Regions from separate parts of the Homo sapiens genome. Here all the other regions are linked to region 1. The links come from fine-mapping of genetic effects on gene expression. A gene starts in region 1. Each other region holds a variant in brackets. All regions are shown on one strand. Distances are between the middles of the regions.

Evidence for each region.
Region 2: its variant is fine-mapped to the expression of SDHB in whole blood (INTERVAL, PIP above 0.99).
Region 3: its variant is fine-mapped to the expression of SDHB in whole blood (TOPMed, PIP above 0.99).

What each region holds. Positions count from the first base shown.
Region 1 is chr1:17,051,253-17,057,698 of GRCh38, reverse strand. It overlaps SDHB (succinate dehydrogenase complex iron sulfur subunit B), which reads left to right and starts at 3,667. Exons shown (of 8, transcript NM_003000.3): 1 at 3,667-3,751. The coding sequence starts at 3,680. RefSeq lists enhancers at 3,128-3,177, 3,728-3,787.
Region 2 is chr1:16,208,347-16,214,792 of GRCh38, reverse strand. It overlaps ARHGEF19 (Rho guanine nucleotide exchange factor 19), which reads left to right and starts at 2,141. Exons shown (of 16, transcript NM_153213.5): 1 at 2,141-2,291; 2 at 5,710-6,150. The coding sequence starts at 5,739. RefSeq lists enhancers at 1,639-2,337, 5,555-6,446. The variant G/A (reference allele first, on the strand shown) is at 2,754.
Region 3 is chr1:16,525,578-16,532,023 of GRCh38, reverse strand. No RefSeq gene overlaps it. Among named protein-coding and RNA genes, the nearest start is that of TRE-TTC4-1, 6.5 kb to the left of the region's middle. The variant C/T (reference allele first, on the strand shown) is at 3,680.

The sequences.
Region 1 (6,446 bases):
TGGGTTTTTCCCAGAGGCAAATGAATCTCCCAGGCAACATCTGATATTTCCTCCTAAATCCAACCCTCCTTCACCCTCTGGCTGGCAGAAATCATCCAGGTTGCCCTAAATTACAAGACACCAGACTACAATTGATTGTACAAATGACAGTTGATACAACATAATGCTTTTTTATTTTGTTATTTTCATTTTTTTGAGACAGGTTCTTGCTCTGTTGCCCAGGCTGGAGTTGCAGTGGTGTGATCACAGCTCACTGCAGCCTCGACCTCCTGCACTCAAGCAATCCTCCCACTTCAGCCTCCCAAGTAGCTGGTACTACAGGTTTGCACCACCATGCTTGGCGGATTTTAAATTTTTTTGTAGAGACAGGGTCTCACCATGTTGCCCAGGCTGGTCTCGAACTCCTGGGCTCAAGGGATCGATCCTCCCACTTCAGCCTCCCAAAGTTCTGGGATTACAGGTATGAGCCACTTTGCCCAGCTGGTTTTAATTTTCAATTCTGGACATGATTTCCAGCTCTTAGGGGAGAAAGACCTCCTAAAGCAAAACGCTCACCTAAGGCTGCTCAGTTTTCCTGCTGTCCAAAGACTGAGAGAGTCTGGAAAACAGGAGCAGCTTTTCCAACCCAAAAGTGTGGTTATGAGGACTAAATGAGACTGTTTATGTAAACACCTTTGCAAGTGATAAAGTTCAGTATAAACATAGTGTCTAGCAGACTGTCTGGTGAAAAGCAATATGTCACTCTCTAGACGAATGGAAATAAACCAAAAAAACCTAGGGTCTTATCATGAGGACATCTTTGGAAAATATGTCAGGATCAGGCCATGAAAATTTCTAAGTCCTTCTGCAGCTGTGACTTTCTGGCATCCCAAAGTCCAGGGCGGAGGTACAGCCGCCCAGGAATTTATTCCTCCATAACTTTGAGCTCCCCAAATCCCCACGAAGCCCAGGAATGATGTGACTGCAGGGCATGTGGGCCCATTGGCACCAACAGCCCCTCCATAAATCAAGGTCTCACTTATGCTGGCCTCAGACTGCTTTTTCCAAGGTGACCTGGGCAAACTGAAAGGGTAGTTGCTTATCTAGGGGTGGCATCTGCCTTTGAGATGAAAGAACCCTGAAAATGCTAAGAGGACCAATTCTCTAGAAATACATTCCTTTCAGGAAGAGCTTTCTTCAGCTCAGACGACAATTCAGTTAGGAGTTAGAGACAGAGCGGCAGTCTTCCCATATCTCAGCCAGTTTGGGTGACCCAAGAGGCCCCATGGGGCAGACCAGAGGGGCCCTGTTCCAGTCCTGGGTCAGCACCAGTGAAAGTCAAGGTGACCTCAGCATTGTTACCAGTTATCCACAAGACAGCCACGTGAATCACAGAATCTTAAATCAGAGGGCCCAACACCCTAATGGTTCAGGCAAGGAAACTATAGGTCAAAGATGGGGAGGGGCTTATCCAAGGTCACATGGCCTTGAAGAGAATATTCCAGGTTAGACCTAGAGGTTCAGGCCTCACTACACACCCCCTTTAATGAGGCCACACTGGCGGTATAGCGGGGTTCCAGTCAAGGACTCCAGAAACAGCCCATCCAGCCAATTGACCTGGCCATCTCAATGTCTCCAGTAGCATCCACATCAGCTGTGAGAGTGGAAACCAAAGACTATAGAAAGGCGCCCTTCACATGTCCAAAACAAGCAGACAGAAAGGGGAAAAAAAAATCACTCCTACGAAACCCCGGGACCTGCAAGGTTAACAATCTACACAAACGCGTGGAGTGACTGAAGAGGCAGGTGCCTTGGAGGCTCCAGGCCACTCCTGCCCAAGGTAAGTCCCAAGAGTGAGGCCAGCTCTGAGCAGATCCATGGAGGGGGCTGGAAAAAGAAGCTGAGATGTCTAAAATGGAAACTCAGTAAAAAACAAAACCAAAAAACTTTCTTCACAGAACTGCTGTGGGGATTAAGTGGGATAATGGACCATAATGTTTGGCACAGAGTAGAAATGGTTTCTTATATTAAATGGCTAACAAAGCCACCAAGGACTGGGTGTCCTTCTCTGGGCACACCCTCTCGTACAGAACAGAGCTCACAGTGTCTAGCTGTCTGCTCACTTGCCGTCTCCACCACTAGAGAGTAAATTCAATGAGCAGTGACCACCTGGCTTGCTCATTCCCTGCAGCATCCCAGCACTTGGTGCCTGCCACATAGTAGCCACTCCATTCGTATTTATGAATGAATGAATGAACGAACAAAAGAATGGCACCTTTGCCAGCCACCCTTGAAATCACCTCAGCTCATTCACCAACTGCCCAGTTTGTTTGGGACTCTCAGTGCAGAAACCTGGGCAGCCTCGGGCAAGCTGCACGGTATGCGACAGAAAGGGCTGACTCAAGCCAGTAAGCGTCAGAGATGAATAATAAGACTGACAAATTCTTAGGGAGGCTAGGTGTGGTGGCTCACGCCTGTAATCCCAGCACTTTGGGAAGTTGGAGCAGGATGATTGCTTGAGCCCAGCCTGGGCAACATAGCCAGACTCCATCTCTACAAATAATTTTTTAAAAAAATTATCCGGGTGGCCGGGCGCGGTGGCTCATGCCTGTAATTCCAGTACTTTGGGAGGCCGAGGTGGGTGGCTCACGAGGTCAGGAGTTCAAGACCAGCCTGGCCAAGATGGTGAAACCCCATCTCTACTAAAAACACAAAAAAATTAGCCGGGCATGATGGCGGACGCCTATAATCCCAGCTACTCGGGAGGCTGAGGCAGGGAATTGCTTGAACCCGGGAGGCGGAGGTTGCAGTCAGCCGAGATCGCGCCACTGCACTCCAGCCTGGGAGACAGAGCGATACTCCATCTCAAAAAAAAGAAAAAAAAAAAAACTACCCGGGTATGGTGGCTCACACGCCTGTAGTCCCAGCTACTCTGGAGGTGGGAGGATCGCTTGAGCCTGGGAAGTCGAGGCTGCAGTGAGCCAAGACTGCACACCGGCCTGGGCAACAGAGTGAGACCCTGTCTGAAAAAAAAAAAAAAAATTGGCCGGGCGCAGTGGCTCATGCCTGTAATTCCAGCACTTTGGGAGGCCAAGGTGGGCGGATCACGAGGTCAGGAGTTCAAGACCAGTCTGGCCAAGATGATGAAACCCCGTCTCTACTAAAAATACAAAAAATTAGCCGGGTGTGATGGTGTGCGCCTGTAATCCCAGCTACTCGGGAGGCTGAGGCAGGAGAATCGCGTGAACCCGGGAGGCGGAGGTTGCAGTGAGCCAAGATCGCGCCATTGCACTCCAGCCCGGGAAACAGTGCGAGACTCCATCTCAAACAAACAAACAAAAATTCCAGGAATAAAGAGGTTGAAATCGGGGCAGGGACCCGGATAGGATGGCTCCGCCCCATCTAAGTCTTAGCCCCACCCCCTGAAAGTCGCCCTGCCTCTCAGACTCCTCCCCTTTCTGAGAAGGTCACGGGGGAAGCCAAATGGGCATGCGCCGCTACTGCGCTATTGCGCACGCTCGCTGTGCTTGCCCCGCCTTCCCTCCGCCCACCCGGGAAACCGGAAGCCGCCTCCCACTTGGTTGCTCGTACGCGGCTAGTGGGTCCTCAGTGGATGTAGGCTGGGCGCCGCGATGTTCGACGGGACACCGGCGGAGAGCGACCTCGGGGTTAAGGGGTGGGGCTGACGTCAGGAGCCAAGATGGCGGCGGTGGTCGCCCTCTCCTTGAGGCGCCGGTTGCCGGCCACAACCCTTGGCGGAGCCTGCCTGCAGGTGAGTCCTGGAGCCTCAGAGAGGGAAAAGTCAGGAAAGCCACAGAGACTGCCTGGAGCTGATGGGGCTGCGGAGAGACTGAGGAAGCATAGGGCAAGGCCTCAGGGAGATGGAGGACCTCCTCCCCCTGGTGCAGTGCTTTGGTTTGGCTTCGAGCATCCCTGTCAAGTTATCTTTCTGCGCCTCGCAGCAGCTTGTGAGTTAGGGCACGGGCAATTTTTTACAGCTAAGGGTGCGGGGGGGGGGGACGTTCAGAAAGGGGACTTGAATTGCTCAAGGTCACATGGCAAGCGAATGACTGCTGGAACCAGAATTTGAATCCAGACATTGGAGTTCCAAGCCCTTTTTCTGCCACCAAACTATCGCCTCTGTAGAAAAGGGAGACCTGCGGGGTGTGAAGGATGGGAATTGGGAAGCGAGGTAATTCCTCAAGGGTGCGAGGTTGAGGACCGGGATGGGTGAGGAAAGGACATGTGAATTGTTGGGGACAGGGCAGGGGAAGGGAGAGATGGAGGGAAATGCACCCAGCCCCCTACCTCGAAGGATCCCGGAGGTGGGTGGTGGGGGTTGCAGGAAAGACTGGGTTCCTTAAAGCAGTGTCACCACAGTTTCACTAGTATCCTCTCAGTGTTTCTGACTCTAAAGGTCATATAATAATACGGACCTCATAGAGTTGACATGGAATGACAGGTAGAGGGCTTGGCGCTGTTCTTGTTTATTACTATGCCGTGTGCAGTAACAGATTTTCCCACGCCCCTTGTATGGCCAAGAAACAACACATTTCTGACCTGCCTTCTAAGTGGGAACATTTAGAAGGGGAAGGGAAATTGCTTTTGTATACATAAGGGACTAAGGATTTGCAAATCCTTTCTAAGTCTGTTCCTCTTCTGGGATTCTCAACAACCCCTTTAAGGTGGGCAAGCAAGAATCCTTACCCTCCTTTTTGGAGCTTTGAAAACTTGAGGCCCCCAGAAAGAAAATTTTTGGCTTGCTCAAAATATCACATTCCCAAGAAGCAGACCTGAGGCAGTTTTTTAACATGGTACCAGAAAAACTCCTTAGCATAGATCTTGGGACATGGTTGGTGTCCAAGAAATTTTAGTTCCTCTTCCTCTCTTGCACTTAAATGAGGACATCTTTCATCTTAAGTGCCTGCTATGGCTGCATAACACAGTACATATTGCCCATGTTCCAATCCTGGTTCTATCCAGCATGCTGTGTGTGAACTTGGATCCACTCTGTCTGCATCAGCCTTTCTGAAAAGGGGAGATAGAGGAAGAAGACAGCCTACCAGAGCCTCAAGCTGACATCCTCTCAGTATTAAATTGATGATTGATAATGAGCTTGTTTACCTGTTCCTTTTATAGTTGCTGAGCAAACAATTAAATTGTGAGAGCCCCACTAACGAGAGAGTTCCAAGCCCCTCTTCTAAGAATGCATTGTAGAAAAGGCTAATTTCATAGGTCATTTTTGTAATTCCAGGCAAGGTCTTTGCAGGGCCTCCTGAGGGCAACAGAAAATAGAAGAGCCCCAAGGCCTCCCCTTCCTTGTGGGAATGTACATGTATACCCACAAAAGCCACCTCAAAAGAATTCAGTAATGAGCTTGGTGTGTTACCTGTGGGTAACATTCAGGTTCAGGTTCTGAATTCTTTTTATGCTTATAGTCTGACCACTGAACCACAATTCTGCCTGTAAGTATTTGACTGTAGTATATTAACTATTGTTTGTGTTGCCTTATTTCTTCATCTGGACTATGAACTCCTTTAGGACAAGAACTACCTACTTAAAAGTGTGTATCTTGCCAGGTGCAGTGGCTCATGCCTGTAATTCCAGCACTTTGGGAGGCCAAGGTGGGTGGATCACCTGAGGTCAGGAGTTCAAGACCAGCCCGGCCAACATGGTGAAACCCCGTCTCTACTAAAAAAATAAAAAAAAAATTAGCTGGGCGTGGTGGTGGGCGCCTATAATCCTAGCTACACAGGAGGCTGAGGCAGGAGAATTGCTTGAACCTGGGAGGTGGAGGGTGCAGTGAGCTGAAATCGCACCATTGCACTCCATCCTGGGCGACAAGAGCGAAACTCAGTCTCAAAAAAAAAAAAAAAATTTAAAAAATGTGCATCTTGTTCCTTAGGCTGGCAGGGCTAGGATACCTATTTACAAATCAGAATAATACAAAGACTGATAAGGTTGCCAATCTTGTAGAGCAAAAATTTTTTTCTGGGCTATGCTAGAAACTTGACCCCCCCTCCCCCGGGTTATCTTATGAGGCAGATATTAATACTACCCACCCTTTACAAAGGAAGAAATAGAATCCGAAAAGCTAATAATTTGCAGAAGAATACACAGCTTGTAAGTGATAGAGCTTGGATTTCAAGCATCACCAATCACACTTTTCAGCAAGCCTGCACCTTGTATTTTACTCAGGCTTATCTTCATACAGTCCTTTTTGCTTTCTTCCTCTCTATTTCCCCACCTTCTTCTCTGGCCTCCAAATCTTTATCCACTCCATCCAACTCCAAGCCTGCACCCTAAGGACACTTTACTGGAGGAACAACAACCAGCCTTCAGCACCATTCAGAATTCACCCTTCTCAGTTCAGTTGTTGCTTACCTTGCTTAAATTATAAACTATGAAATTCATACTATCCAAGATTTCCTAGGAATGTACTTTCTGCCTTGAATACTCATTAGTCT
Region 2 (6,446 bases), 840 kb after region 1:
CCCAAAGTGCTGGGATTACAGGCGTGAGCCACCACGCCCGGCCAGACCTGGGTTTCAATACTAGTCCTGCCCCTTATTAGCTGTGTGACAAGTTATTTAATCTCTCAAACCTTAATGTCATCTGTAAAATAGGGACTTCATAGAACTGATGAGAGATTTCAAAGGGATAATGCTCATGACTTAACTTGTTAAGTTGGCCCCCCATATCCTCAGGTTCTGCATCCTTGGGTTCAACCAACAATGCATGGAAAATGAAAATAAAAACAAAAAATAACAAAAATAATGACAATAAAAAATAATGCAAATAAAAAACATTACAGGATAACAACTATTTACATAGCACTTACACTGTATTAACGTGTTATAAGTAATCTAGAATTGATTTAAACTGTACTGGAGTGCCGGGCGTGGTGGCTCATGTCTATAAATCCAGTACTTTGGGAGGCCAAGGCTGGTGGATCGCCTGAGCCCAGGAGTTTGAGACTAGGCTGGGCAACCTGGTGAGATCCCATCTCTACAAAAAATACAAAAATTAGTCAGGTGTGGGGGTGCACACCAGTGGTCCCAGTTACTCAGGAGGCTTAGGTGGGAGAATCACCTGAGCCCAGGAGGTCGACGAGACTGCAAGTGAGCCCTGTAATTGCACCACTGTACTCCAGCCTGGATGACAGAGTGAGACCCTCTCACTTGAGGACATTTTATTTTATTTTTTGACAATAAATACATAAAATAGACTGGGTGCGGTGGCTCACGTCTATAATCCCAGCACTTCGGGAGGTTGAGGCGGGTGGATCACTTAAGGTCAGGAGTTCAAAAACCAGCCTGGCCAACATGGTGAAACCCTGTCTTGACTAGAAACAAAAAAAATTAGTAGGGTGTGGTGGCATGCGCCTGTAATCCCAGCTACTGGGGAGGCTGAGGCAGAAGAATTGCTTGAACCTGGGAGGCAAAGGTTGCGGTGAGCTGAGATCCCACCACTTGCTCCAGCCTGGGTGACAGAGCAAGACTCCATCTTAAAAATAAATAAATAAATAAATAAATAAATAAATAAATAAATAAATAAAATAAAATAAAATAAAATTTACTGGAGGATGTACAAAGGTTATAGCAAACACTATGACATTTTGTATAAGGGACTGGAGCAGCCATGGATTTTCGTATGGGAGGGTTCTAGAACCAATTCCCCACAGATTCTGGGTACCAAGGGACAACTGTACTCACCTGATAAGTGGTAGCAGTATCTACCTGACAGGGTCATGGTGGAGATTAAATGAGTAAATACATGTGAAGTGCTCAGGACAGTGCCTGGCACCTAGTAGGTGAACAATAAGTTAGCTTCATGACTATTAGTCTGTGTACACATCTGCATATTAATATTAGGTGCCTGGCAATTGCTGGTAGCTCAAACAGATGGCAGGTAGAATTAGGGGAAAATGCAGCTTCCCATTCCACAGGGTTGGGAAGATTGCATGCCGGGCATAGAGCATGCCCTTCTTATTGGAGGCAGTTTGACTTGGCTATTTGGCTTGGTTTATTGAGGGCTCAATTGGTATAGTCTGGGAAGGCTTCATGGTGGAGGCGGCCACTGGAGATGGTGGGGCAGGTCATTCCAGGCCGTGGGAAAGGATGGGGATTTGCAAGCAGTGGCTGTACTAGATGAGGAGAGGCTGTCCAGGATGATGCCACATGTCACATCATCAACTTTCAGGACTGATTTCTGTCTCCCAATCATAGGGATGAGTGTTCCAATTTGATAGATGTAGTAATAGGATCAGAGAGGGTCATCAGGGTTCTCAGGGTCCCTAAGGAGTGCAGGGCTTGGGAGGCTCTCTGTGAAGCTCCCAGGATGCTCCCCAGCTCCAAGAAGTCCCCTGAGCATGCTCATGTTTGGGAAGCTCCAGAAGAGTGGTGACCTGTCTCCTAGGAGCAGAAGCACTGCCTCCCCCGTCTTTAGGACCTGGGTGTAGGGTCCTTCAGAGCCTCACTTGGGCATAGGACTCCCATTGTTCCAGCCCCCCTCTTGTACCCCAGACTAGCCAAACCGGTTCTGGGGAAGGGGGGCGGGGAGCAGGCACGTTGAGACAGCCGCCTGCCTCTCTCTGCAAGGTTCCCTCCTCCTTCACCTCCCCCTCCCTGCCCCACACAATACCCAGGAGCTTGCCTTGCTCGGCTCTGGGGCCATGCTGACATGCTGACATCGCCCCCTGAGGACTTGGCTGCAACCCCAGAGCCCCCAGGGTGTCCCGGAGCCCTGGACCGTGCTGGCAGCTGGACGGAGCTCCCTGGCTGAGGTAGGGCCCCACCTGGGTGCCAGCAGTCCCATTCTCTTCCCGCCAGTTTTCCCCGCTGAGTGAGCCCTTTGTGCTGCCCGCCTGGTCTCTGATCCTGGCTCTGACCCACTATGGCCTTCTGGGGCTCTGTGAACCACTTGGCCTGGATCCACTTTCCAGCCATGACTTCCCACCTGGCTTTATTCCTTAAAGGGCAGAGAGGCTCTGGCAGGGTACCAGCTCTCCTGGGCAGCAAGGCAAGGGGCACCCGGGAGGGGGCAGGGAAAAGCTAGGTACAGGAGGCCAGAAACACTTTTTCTGATCATGGTAGTGTCCAGGGACTCTCTGGCAGCCTTGCTAAGTGGGCCCATCGTCTTCTGTAATTAGCAGCACCCACCAAGGGTACTTTCCTCGGCCCCTGCCCATCCTTCTTGGCCCAGAGACATTTATGATGAGACATGTTTCTTAGAGAGGGCATTGGGC[G/A]GTGGTGCGGTCCCTTAGGAGCCACTTTACAGATGGGAATACTGAGGCCAAGGGATGGGCTGTGAATTGCCTAAGGCCACACAGCTGGTCAGTGTCAACACTGGGCCTCAAAGCTTGGGCGGAGGTTATTCTTTTTGGGCTCCAGAGTGGCCCTTGCCTAGTAGACACAAGAGTCTCTATCCTGTGATCGTGCCTTGGGAAGGTAATGTCCCTGCTGTCTGGGGCCAGTTCTCTTTCTGAGGTTTTTGTTTGTTTTTTTCTAACAGAGATGAGCTACACACAATATGAACACAGCTTGTCCCTCTTAGCTCCCCAGCATTGAGGTTGGGTGGGCCAAACCCCTGGAGGGCCACAGGGCTGGCATCCCAGCTAGATGGGTCATTCTTATTACCCCTTGGCTTGAGCATAGGTGGAGGCTGACACACTCCTGACTTCTTCCCTGCTAGGGACCTGCCTCCAGCTTCATCTCCCCGGGAAGCCTTCTATGTCCCCTCTCCCCACATTCACCTAGCCTTCTCCTCTGCAGCCTTAACTGGGGGTGCTCCTGCTGCAAAGCCTCAATGTTTTGCCTACTTATCCCTGTGAGCCATGGGAGAGAGGGTCCCTCCCTGCCCTCCAGGAGCTTCCAGAACCCAAGTGCTAGAATCTCCCAGCATACAAAGGGGCAGGGGGCATGTGTACATGCCTGCACATGTGTGCCCCCAGAAGCAAGTGGGACTTCTGTGTCGAGGACTTCTGATTCCTGCAGAGAAAGAGACCCGTCTGTGGGCAGGGGCCTCCTTGTGCACACTCCTGCGATATAATGTGTGTCTCAGCCTCACTCCTTCATCTTCCCCATCTGTGTGAAGGCCTGAGCTGCCTTCTGTCTAGAGAAAGACTGATGATAATAAAAATACTATCCTATTTGCCGGATGAGGAGACCGAGGCTTAGGGAGACTCGCTCAGATGGGTACTTTTCAGGCTAGAGGGACAGAGGCTGATGGTACAAGCCAGAGTGGCCACCGTAGAGAGGACCCCTTTGGAGCAGCCAGTCCCCTTCTTCCCACCCTCCCAGACAGCAGGGTGAAGGGAGCAGGGGGAAGCAGTTGAGAAGCTGTGCAGAGAGACTGGGGCCTGCCATAGACCCAGCCATCTCTCGCTGGGTCCTCTTCTCCCTCCCTGTCTCCAATAGTGACTGACACTGTCACTGTTCAGGCCAAGGCTTTCCCTCTAAGTGCACTATGTATTTCAGCCGTGGAGCAGTTAACTATCACCTCCTCCAGGAAGTCTTCCTGGAATACCCAGGTTGAGTTGAGCCGAGCACCCTCCTCTGATGGTTCCTCTGGCTTGGCTCTTGCCAACCTGGATTGTAACTGTTTTCATTTTTGGCTCTCCCACTAGACTGGCAGCCCACGGGCATGAAATGTTTGTCCATCTGTCTCCCTGGGTTTTCTGGGCTTCATCTGTGTCTCTGAGGATCTGGTTGGCCTGAAATTGTCAGTGTCTCTGTCTCCATCTCTGGGTCCCTGAATGTCTCAGCATCTGTGGTTTTTCTGTTTTTGAACGTCTTGGGGTCTTGGTTTCTCAGTTACTGGCTAAGTGGTCTCTGTTTCTCTGGGTCTCTCTCAGTCTTCATTTCCTGGCTCTCCTGGTCCTGCCAGGCTGGGCACTGCCCCTTTGGCCTGAGGGGGCCTCTGGGGGGTCCTGGCTGCCCGGCCTGCCCACAGCGAGGCCAGGCTAGGGTAGGCCCCCGCCCAGCCCGCTGCCTGCTCCCTCCCTCCCTCCCTGCTTGCCTCACCACAGGGTTTGATGAATCAAACTCTTTGTCTGGGTGGGATCTCCCCCAGCCAGCTGGGCAGAGAGAGGGCTTCCCCTGCCGGAACAGCCAAACAGCATCAGCAGCGGGCCTGGGCCCAGAGAGGTGAGGGGCTGCAGGAGGGAGGCTGGCAGAGGGCCACAGGGCAAGAGCTGTGGGGGCTTGGGCCTCTCAGATCATCAGGCCTGCCCCGATCGGAGGGCTGGCTCCCCAGGGATAACTTCCTGCCCAGAAAGGACCCATCCAGCCTGGCCCACCCAGGGGCTGGAAGCTGGGGTGGGGGACAGCCCCTCTTTCACTCCAAGCCGGGGGTGCTGGGGCACCTCTTTGAACTTCGAGAAGGCCCCTGCCTGATCTGGGTGGTGGCCCGCCTGCCAGTCCATGACCCTCCCAGCCAACTTGGCATGGGTGTGGGCACCACTCAGCACTGAAGGCCGCAACTCTGGGCAAGGGTCGGGGAGATGGGGGGAGAAACATCAGAGCAAGGACCTGTGGGCTGGTGTGTGTCTGTGTGCATGTGAAGGGAACAGGAGGGTGAGAAATCTTGGGTGCCTGTGTAAATATCGGACGGGTCAGCGTGTTTGTGAGGAGTTGTCTGTGAATGTATGCGGTTGTGTAAAAATGTGTGTGTCTGTGACTGTGTGAGCCTGAGTTTGAAATGTCTGTATCTATGAAAGTGTACATGTCATTCTATACTTGGGAGAAAATGTAGTGTGGATGTATATGTTGGGAAATGGATTTGTGTGACAATGTATGTATTTGCATGTCTGGTGACATGTCAGTGTGTTTTAGAGAAGTACAAGGTGGTTAAAATCATCGATTTCAAAGCTAGAACGGCCAGGTTAGAATCCTGGCTCCACCATTTACCAAATAACCTCTCTGTGCCTCAGTTTCCTCACCTATAAAATGGGGATAATAAGAGCATCAACTCACAGCGTTGTTGTGAGGATTAAATGAGATAGTATGTGTAAAGTACTTGGCCTATCATTCAGGCAATGCCAAGCAAGTATCAGCTATTTCTATATAATTAGACATGTGAGTGTGTTTGTGGAGATGTGTGTACACAAGTGTACACAGGGGTTTGTCCAGGCCTCCAGGGGTGGTGGCTTACTGGCCAGCCCCACTGTCCTCTGTCTAGGTCTGATATCTTCTCTTCTGCAGGGCCAGGTGGGTGGCAGAGCAAAAGAGGAATGGACTGTGGGCCACCTGCTACCCTCCAGCCCCACCTGACTGGGCCACCTGGCACTGCCCACCACCCTGTAGCAGTGTGCCAGCAGGAGAGTCTGTCCTTTGCAGAGCTGCCCGCCCTGAAGCCCCCGAGCCCAGTGTGTCTGGACCTTTTCCCTGTTGCCCCAGAGGAGCTTCGGGCTCCTGGCAGCCGCTGGTCCCTGGGGACCCCTGCCCCTCTCCAAGGGTTGCTATGGCCATTATCCCCAGGAGGCTCAGATACAGAGATCACCAGCGGGGGGATGCGGCCCAGCAGGGCTGGCAGCTGGCCACACTGTCCTGGTGCCCAGCCCCCAGCTCTGGAGGGACCCTGGAGTCCCCGACACACACAGCCACAGCGCCGGGCCAGCCACGGCTCGGAGAAGAAGTCTGCCTGTGAGTCACCCTGGGGAAGGCGGGTGTGGGTGCCATGGCAGGGGGATAGGGGAGGGGCTGGGCAGCTCCTTAACCTTTATGTCCCAAGGTTCCCCCAAAAGTCAGGACAAGTGGTAGATTAGTGATAAGGAAACTAGTGGGGCTCAGGGAAGGCAAGTGACTTGTCCAAGGTTATGCAGTGAGTGAGTCACCATTCTGGGCAGCCTGATCCCTCTGTCTACTGCAGCCAGGCCCTGTGCTCTCCTTACCCCTCTCGTGGACCCCAGGGCTCTGGGGACCAGATGCTAGCAGAAACA
Region 3 (6,446 bases), 530 kb after region 1:
CTGCCTTCAAGTGGCATCATACCTCTTCACATGACTCCTCCCCCTGCCTTTATGCTATTGTCATGCATTTTACTTTACACCTGTTATAAACCTTACAATCCATCTCTATTACTTTTGTTTCAAGAGTCAGATGTGTTTTTGTTTGTTTGTTTGTTTGTTTGTTTGTTTGTTTTTGCTTTTTTGTTGCTGGTGGTGGTGTTTTTAAGACGAGTCTTACTCTATCGGACAGGCTGGAGTGCAGTGGCACAGTCTTGGCTCACTGCAACCTCTGCTTTCCGGGTTCGAGCGATTCTCCTGACTCAGACTCCTGAGTAGCAGAGATTACAGGCTTGCGCCACCATATATGACTAATTTTTGAATTTTTCGTAGAGAGGAAGGTTCACCATATTGGCCAGGCTGGTCTCGAACTCCTGACCTCAAGTGATCCGCCTTCCTTGGCCTCCCAAAGTGCCGGGATTCCAGGCGTGAGCCATCGTGCCCAGCTAAACAGTCAGATGTTAAAATTATATATTTGCCTATGTAGATGTCATTTCTAGTGTCTTTTTTTTTTTCATCCACATTTTCATCTGGTGTCAGTTTCCTTCTGCCTGGAGGACTCCTTTAACTTGTCTATTAGGTGTCTTAAACTTGCACTATCATTCACTGATGCTCTGTTCATTTAAAAAAAAAAACTTGTTGGCCGGGTGCGGTGGCTCACGCCTGTAATCCCAGCACTTTGGGAGGCCGAGGTGGGTAGATCAGGAGGTCAGGAGATAGAGACCATCCTGGCTAACACGGTGAAACCCCGTCTCTACTAAAAATACAAAAAAATTAGCTGGCTGTGGTGGCGGGCGCCTGTAGTCCCAGCTACTCAGGAGGCTGAGGCGGAAGAATGGTGTGAACCCAGGAGGCGGAGCTTGGAACCTGTCAAAAGGCATTCTTAGCCTTAAAAGAAAAGCCAGGGACATCCCTTGCCTCAGGACTCTCGAACTTAGAAAAACCTTTCACCCTCTATGTGGATGAATAACAAGGGACAGCTTCGAATGTTCTAACTCAAAGGCTGAGGAATTGCTTTGGACCAGTGGCTTATTTCTCTAAACAGCTAGACCAGGTGGCAGCTAGGTGACCAAGAAGCTTGAGATCTGTGACTACCATCACTCTATCGTTAGACGAAACCAGTAAGTTTACCTTGGGACAACAATTACATGCCATACCACCCCACCCCCACCCCCACCCCCTGCCACCCCATGAAGTACAGTACAGAGGGTCCTAGAGGCAAAAGTACACCAATGGCTAACAGGGGGCCAGTTACTTAAATATCAGACCCTTCTGCTTGACACCCCAGATGTTACCCTGAAAGTGTCCTGATTTTTAAACCCTGCTACTCTGTTGCTGCACCTCACGTCTCAAGAAACAGATCCCAAACTCATTGACTCCTGTGTGGAAACCACGGAAGAGCTCTACTCTAGAAGGCCCAACCTTGAAGACAAGCTCTTGTCTAACCCAAATGTTGAGTGGTTTAGAGATGGAAATAGCTATATTCATGAGGGAGTAAGAAAGGAAGCTTAGCCAACAAGAAGTTTTTGAGGCCAAGGGTTTACCTTCTCAGACTTCTGTTCAAAAAGCAGAATTAGCTGCTCTAATTAGGGCCTTCCAACCATGAAAAGACTTAAGCTGGACACGGTGGCTCACGCCTGTAATCCCAGCACTTTGGGAGGCCAAGGTGGGTGGATCACCTGAGGTTGGGAGTTCTATACCGGCCTAGCCAACATGGCGAAACCCCGTCTCTACTAAAAATACAAAAATTAGCTGGGTGTGGTGGGGGTCGCCTGTAATCCCAGCTACTTGGGAGGCTGGGGCATGAGAATCCCTGAGTTTGCAGTGAGCTGAGATTGCAGTGAGCTGAGATCATGCCACTGCACTCCAGCCTGGGCGACACAGCAAGACTCCGTTTCAAAAAAAGAAAAAAAAAGAACAAAACCTCAAGAGTCAATGTGTTGACTGACTCTAAATATGGGTTCCTGGTGCTCCATGCTCATGCAGCCATAGGGAAGGAAAGGGGACTATCAAGAGCCAAGGGATCCCCCACACAACTTTACTCAGATCTTGGAACTTTTAGATGCTGTCCAACTCCCAAAGAAATAACAATTACTCACCGCAGGGGACACCAGAAGGGAGACACTTTTATTATTAGAGGAAATTCCCTGGTGGAAAGAGCAGCTAAGGCCACAGCTAAGGAAACCCTGGTATTTCAGGCTGCTGCGCTACTACCAGGTACTCCATCCGTGTCAGTGACACCATAATATACCCCTAAGGAAATTAAAGGGACTGAGTAAAAGGCTTCCAGGGAGACCCATCTGGATGGTTGCTAGAAAAGAACAAACTCTATTCCTGAGGCTGACAGATGGGAAATAATTAAACATTTTCATGATTCCTCACATTTGGGACAGGATTTTCCATTTAAATTAGTTTCCTAAATATTCTTGCGGAAGGGACTGTTCCAAACTATAAAAAGGGTTACCACTCAGGAAGCCACCCCATACCCCGATCCCTGCTTAAACCTGTACAACACCAAGGAACATACCATGGTGAAGACTGGCAGACAGACTTAAACCAGATGCCACCTTACAGGGGACTACAAGATTTGCTAGTATTTATAGACACTTTCACCAGGTGGATAGAAGCTTTCCCCACAAGGACAGGAAAAGTATTGGAAGTGTCTAAATTCTTAAAGAAATCATTCCAAGATTTGGATTACCAAAAGGTTTGCAAGGTGACAACTGACCTCACTTTACAGCTAAGGTGACCCAGTGAGGTCATGCCTCAGCCTTAGGCATTACCTATCTTCACTCCTCATGGAGATCTCAGTCTTCAAATAACATAGAAAGCCAATCGCGACATTAGCAAAACTCTTTCAGTTTGGGGGCTTGCCTGCCCTGCGTCACTATCATTGTTTCCTTGGGTTTCCCAGGAATGTACATGTGTCAGACTGCCGCCCTGCTTATAGATCTGTTTCCCTGCAAGGAAACAGGAATATGTTGCCTGTGGCTTCCAGAGTTGGAGATACATGTAGTTGCACCCCTGAGGGCTAACATTTAATTTTGGAATCAAGTGATGCAATCAGACTGGTTGTTATCATTCTGTGGTATATATTTAGTGAACACATTCATGATTGAGTTTCCTGCTTTTAGCTGGAGCAAGAAAGTTTTATAATTGTGATTTGTATGAAAAAATCATAGGCAAGGGAATGGGTGTAAAATAAACTTTATTGTCAGAGGTTTCTACAGGCTCATCCTTCAAGGAAAACGGACGTATGCTGAAGAGCTGATAAACTGTCTACAGCAGTGTTATTCTAACCTAATCTTGATTCCAAGTTCTTGCCATTTTCCTCCAGCTGCTGTTGACTCCAGTTATATATAGGATGGGGGAAAGGGGATTATCTATGAATCTAGGCATCACTGTCTCTTGGGCCCTTATCACATTGGCAGACTGAAGGGATGTGATTTCTACAATCAAACTATCCATTTGGAGTACAAATCTGGAGTGGCTGTAGAATTCGGTTCTCAGAGATGAGCTTGCAGATTTGGACTTTCAATTGTTCTGTTGTTTTAGTTTTTCTCATCAACTGGGGAACTGTTTGTGACTAAGCTTTGTTAAAAGTAGAGAAGAGCTTTTCATAGTTCCAACATTAGTTGTTACC[C/T]GAAACAAACAAAAACACACACACACAAAATTAAACAATAATCTTTGGTGAGGTCTTGCTGATACCTGAGGCTGGAGTGAGAGCTGACTGGTGATACAGGCCAGGTGCAAACTGAGTGTAACTAAGTGGATAATCTCCAGTAGTGAACTACAGTCTAGAAGAAGATAGTAATAATAGATTGAAAAAAAAGTCTCCTGAAATGAACTAGCTGGCCTGTGGTGTAGGACACAGGACCCCACCCACCTTATGATTCTAAAAGCCTTGCTCAAAGCCACTGCAGATGAGTTCACTAGGTCTCTACCACCTCCTCAGCATCAATTGACTCTCCATAATACTCCTCTGGAGAGAAATAAGGGTCTTTCAACCTCCCAGGAAGGAATTTGCTTAGCCTCAAATGTGCACATTCAGAAATAGCTTGTCATAAGAAAGAGAGGATAGTTTGCAGAGAAATAACCCTCCTAAGTCCACATCCTGTTCCTTTTAAATAAGAGAGTGGTGCCAAGGGAAGAGCCCTAGAATGTCAAAGCCAACAGGGTGCTCAGATACCACCCAAGTACAGTTCCATCTTTGGCCATAAGGAGACAATGGTGTCAAGAGGCTAAGGCCGTATGATCTGTAGGTGAAAAACCTGGGATGAGAATCGAGGCCTCAAAACTTTTCCACTACATCACAGAGTTTAGGAGCAGTTAGAGGGAAGGCTTCAATCTGGAGAACACTAACAGGCTCTAGAGATTATTGGGTCATGGTGGCTGGGACAGAAATAAGGATTCACAGAAAGATGTTTATAGTAAATGTTCTTTTGGGATTTTGCTTGATAAAAAGGCAGAGCAAAAGTAAAAATTTATTTATTTTCTTTTTTTTTTTTAGACAGTTTCACTCTTGTTTCCCAGGCTGGAGTGCAATGGTGCAATCTCAGCTCACCACAACCTCCAGCCCCTGGGGTTCAAGCAATTCTCCTGCCTCAGCCTCCCAAGTAGGTGTGATTACAGGCATGCACCACCACGCCCAGCTAATTTTTTTTTTTTTTTTTTTTTAGTAGAGACGGGGTTCCTCCATCTTGGTCAGGCTGGTCTCAAACTCCCGACCTCAAGTGATCCTCCCAAAGTGCTGGGATTACAGGCTCCAGCCACCACACCTGGCCAAAAGGAAAAATTTTCTAATTGCAATTCTGAACCACTTAGGGGTTGTGAAATCAATATAGTCGACTGCTTACTACTGCAGGCTTTATTTAAATTCTAGGTAGGGTGGATTACACATAGTAAAAGATTTTTTAAAAACTGATCACAGGCCAGGCGCAGTGGCTCACGCCTGTAATCCCAGCACTTTGGGAGGCCGAGGCGGGTGGATCACGAGGTCAGGAGATTGAGACCATCCTGGCTAACACGGTGAAACCCCGTCTCTAATAAAAATACAAAAAAAAAAAAAAATTAGCTGGGCATGGTGGTGGGTGCCTGTAGTCCCACCTACTCAGGACGCTAAGGCAGGAGAATGGTGTGAACCCAGGAGGGTGGGGCTTGTAGTGAGCCGAGATCATTCCAATGCACTCCAGCCTGGGCAACGGAGCAAGACTCCATCTCAAAAAAAAAAAAAAAAAAAAAAAAAACTGATCACAAAGAATTGTATATTTCTCACTGCATCTTGTGGTCAGAAAAGTTTGAGAAACTGCTCTACATAGGCAAATTACAGGTTCAACCTCTCCATCTACCTCTTTATCTCTTCTCTATTTTCCATGCTATGCAGACAAGACCATGGAGAGAGGAAGGGAAATTCCATCAAAGGGTGGTGTTAAGCCTTTTCTATGAGGTAGCTGCACATTTGGGGCACTTCAATAATGGTTACTTGAGATTCTAGTAGATAGATTGTCCTTTTCATCTCTAGCCACATGGTAAAATTACTTGGGAGTGTTTTAAGACTACTAGTGGCTTCCACCCACCTGGAAGCGTTTAAATCAGAATCTCTATGTGTAGAGTCCAGACACTTGTGTTAGTTAAAACCTCACCGGGCTTTATAATATGACAGAGTGGTTTAAAGCTACGGAGTAGACCCACCCTATTTCCTACCTTTCTCTTTGTTTCTCTTTCACCATAGGCTTCTTTCCCATGAAAAAGTACAGATTTTAGTCTCTGTTTTCAGAGTCTCAAGTAAATCACTCTCTTTCTCAACTGGACTTCCAAGGCAAAGATTTCTTTCTATTTATCTATCTGCATTTTTACAAAGTTGGCCTCTGGATTCCCTTTTGCCAAACCTAATTCACCACAAAGGTGCCCCTCAAGTCAAGGAGCTGGGCTTTCATACACCTGCACCTGTCAATCATGGGTAAATATTTTGCAGGCAGGGTTGCTGGGTGCTGTGGGATTGACATAAACTCCCAGGTATTGCCAGCTCTGAGCCTCAGGCAAGCTTGTGACTAAGTGCCTCCAGTAGTCTGAGGATAGTCCTTACTCAGAAGGGTCTGTGGAAGCAAAAGCAAACATAGGCATGAGAGGGTAAAAAAAAAAAAAAAAAAAAAAAAATCTCATGTCATCTTGGCTTATACCTAACAGAACTTGTGCAAGAATGGATATTAAGGTGGGTATTGTACACCACAGAGCTTAGTAAATACCAAGTCTGGAGTTTAAGGGATAGGCTGAAGAGATTTTGCAGGTTTGTAAACATTGTTGCCAACTTGAACACACTTTTGTTTGGGTTTGGTTTTTCTCCTCAGTGGTAAGAGCTACGCACAATAGGGTAGCTAAGATATTATAATTTGAATCAATACATTTGTATT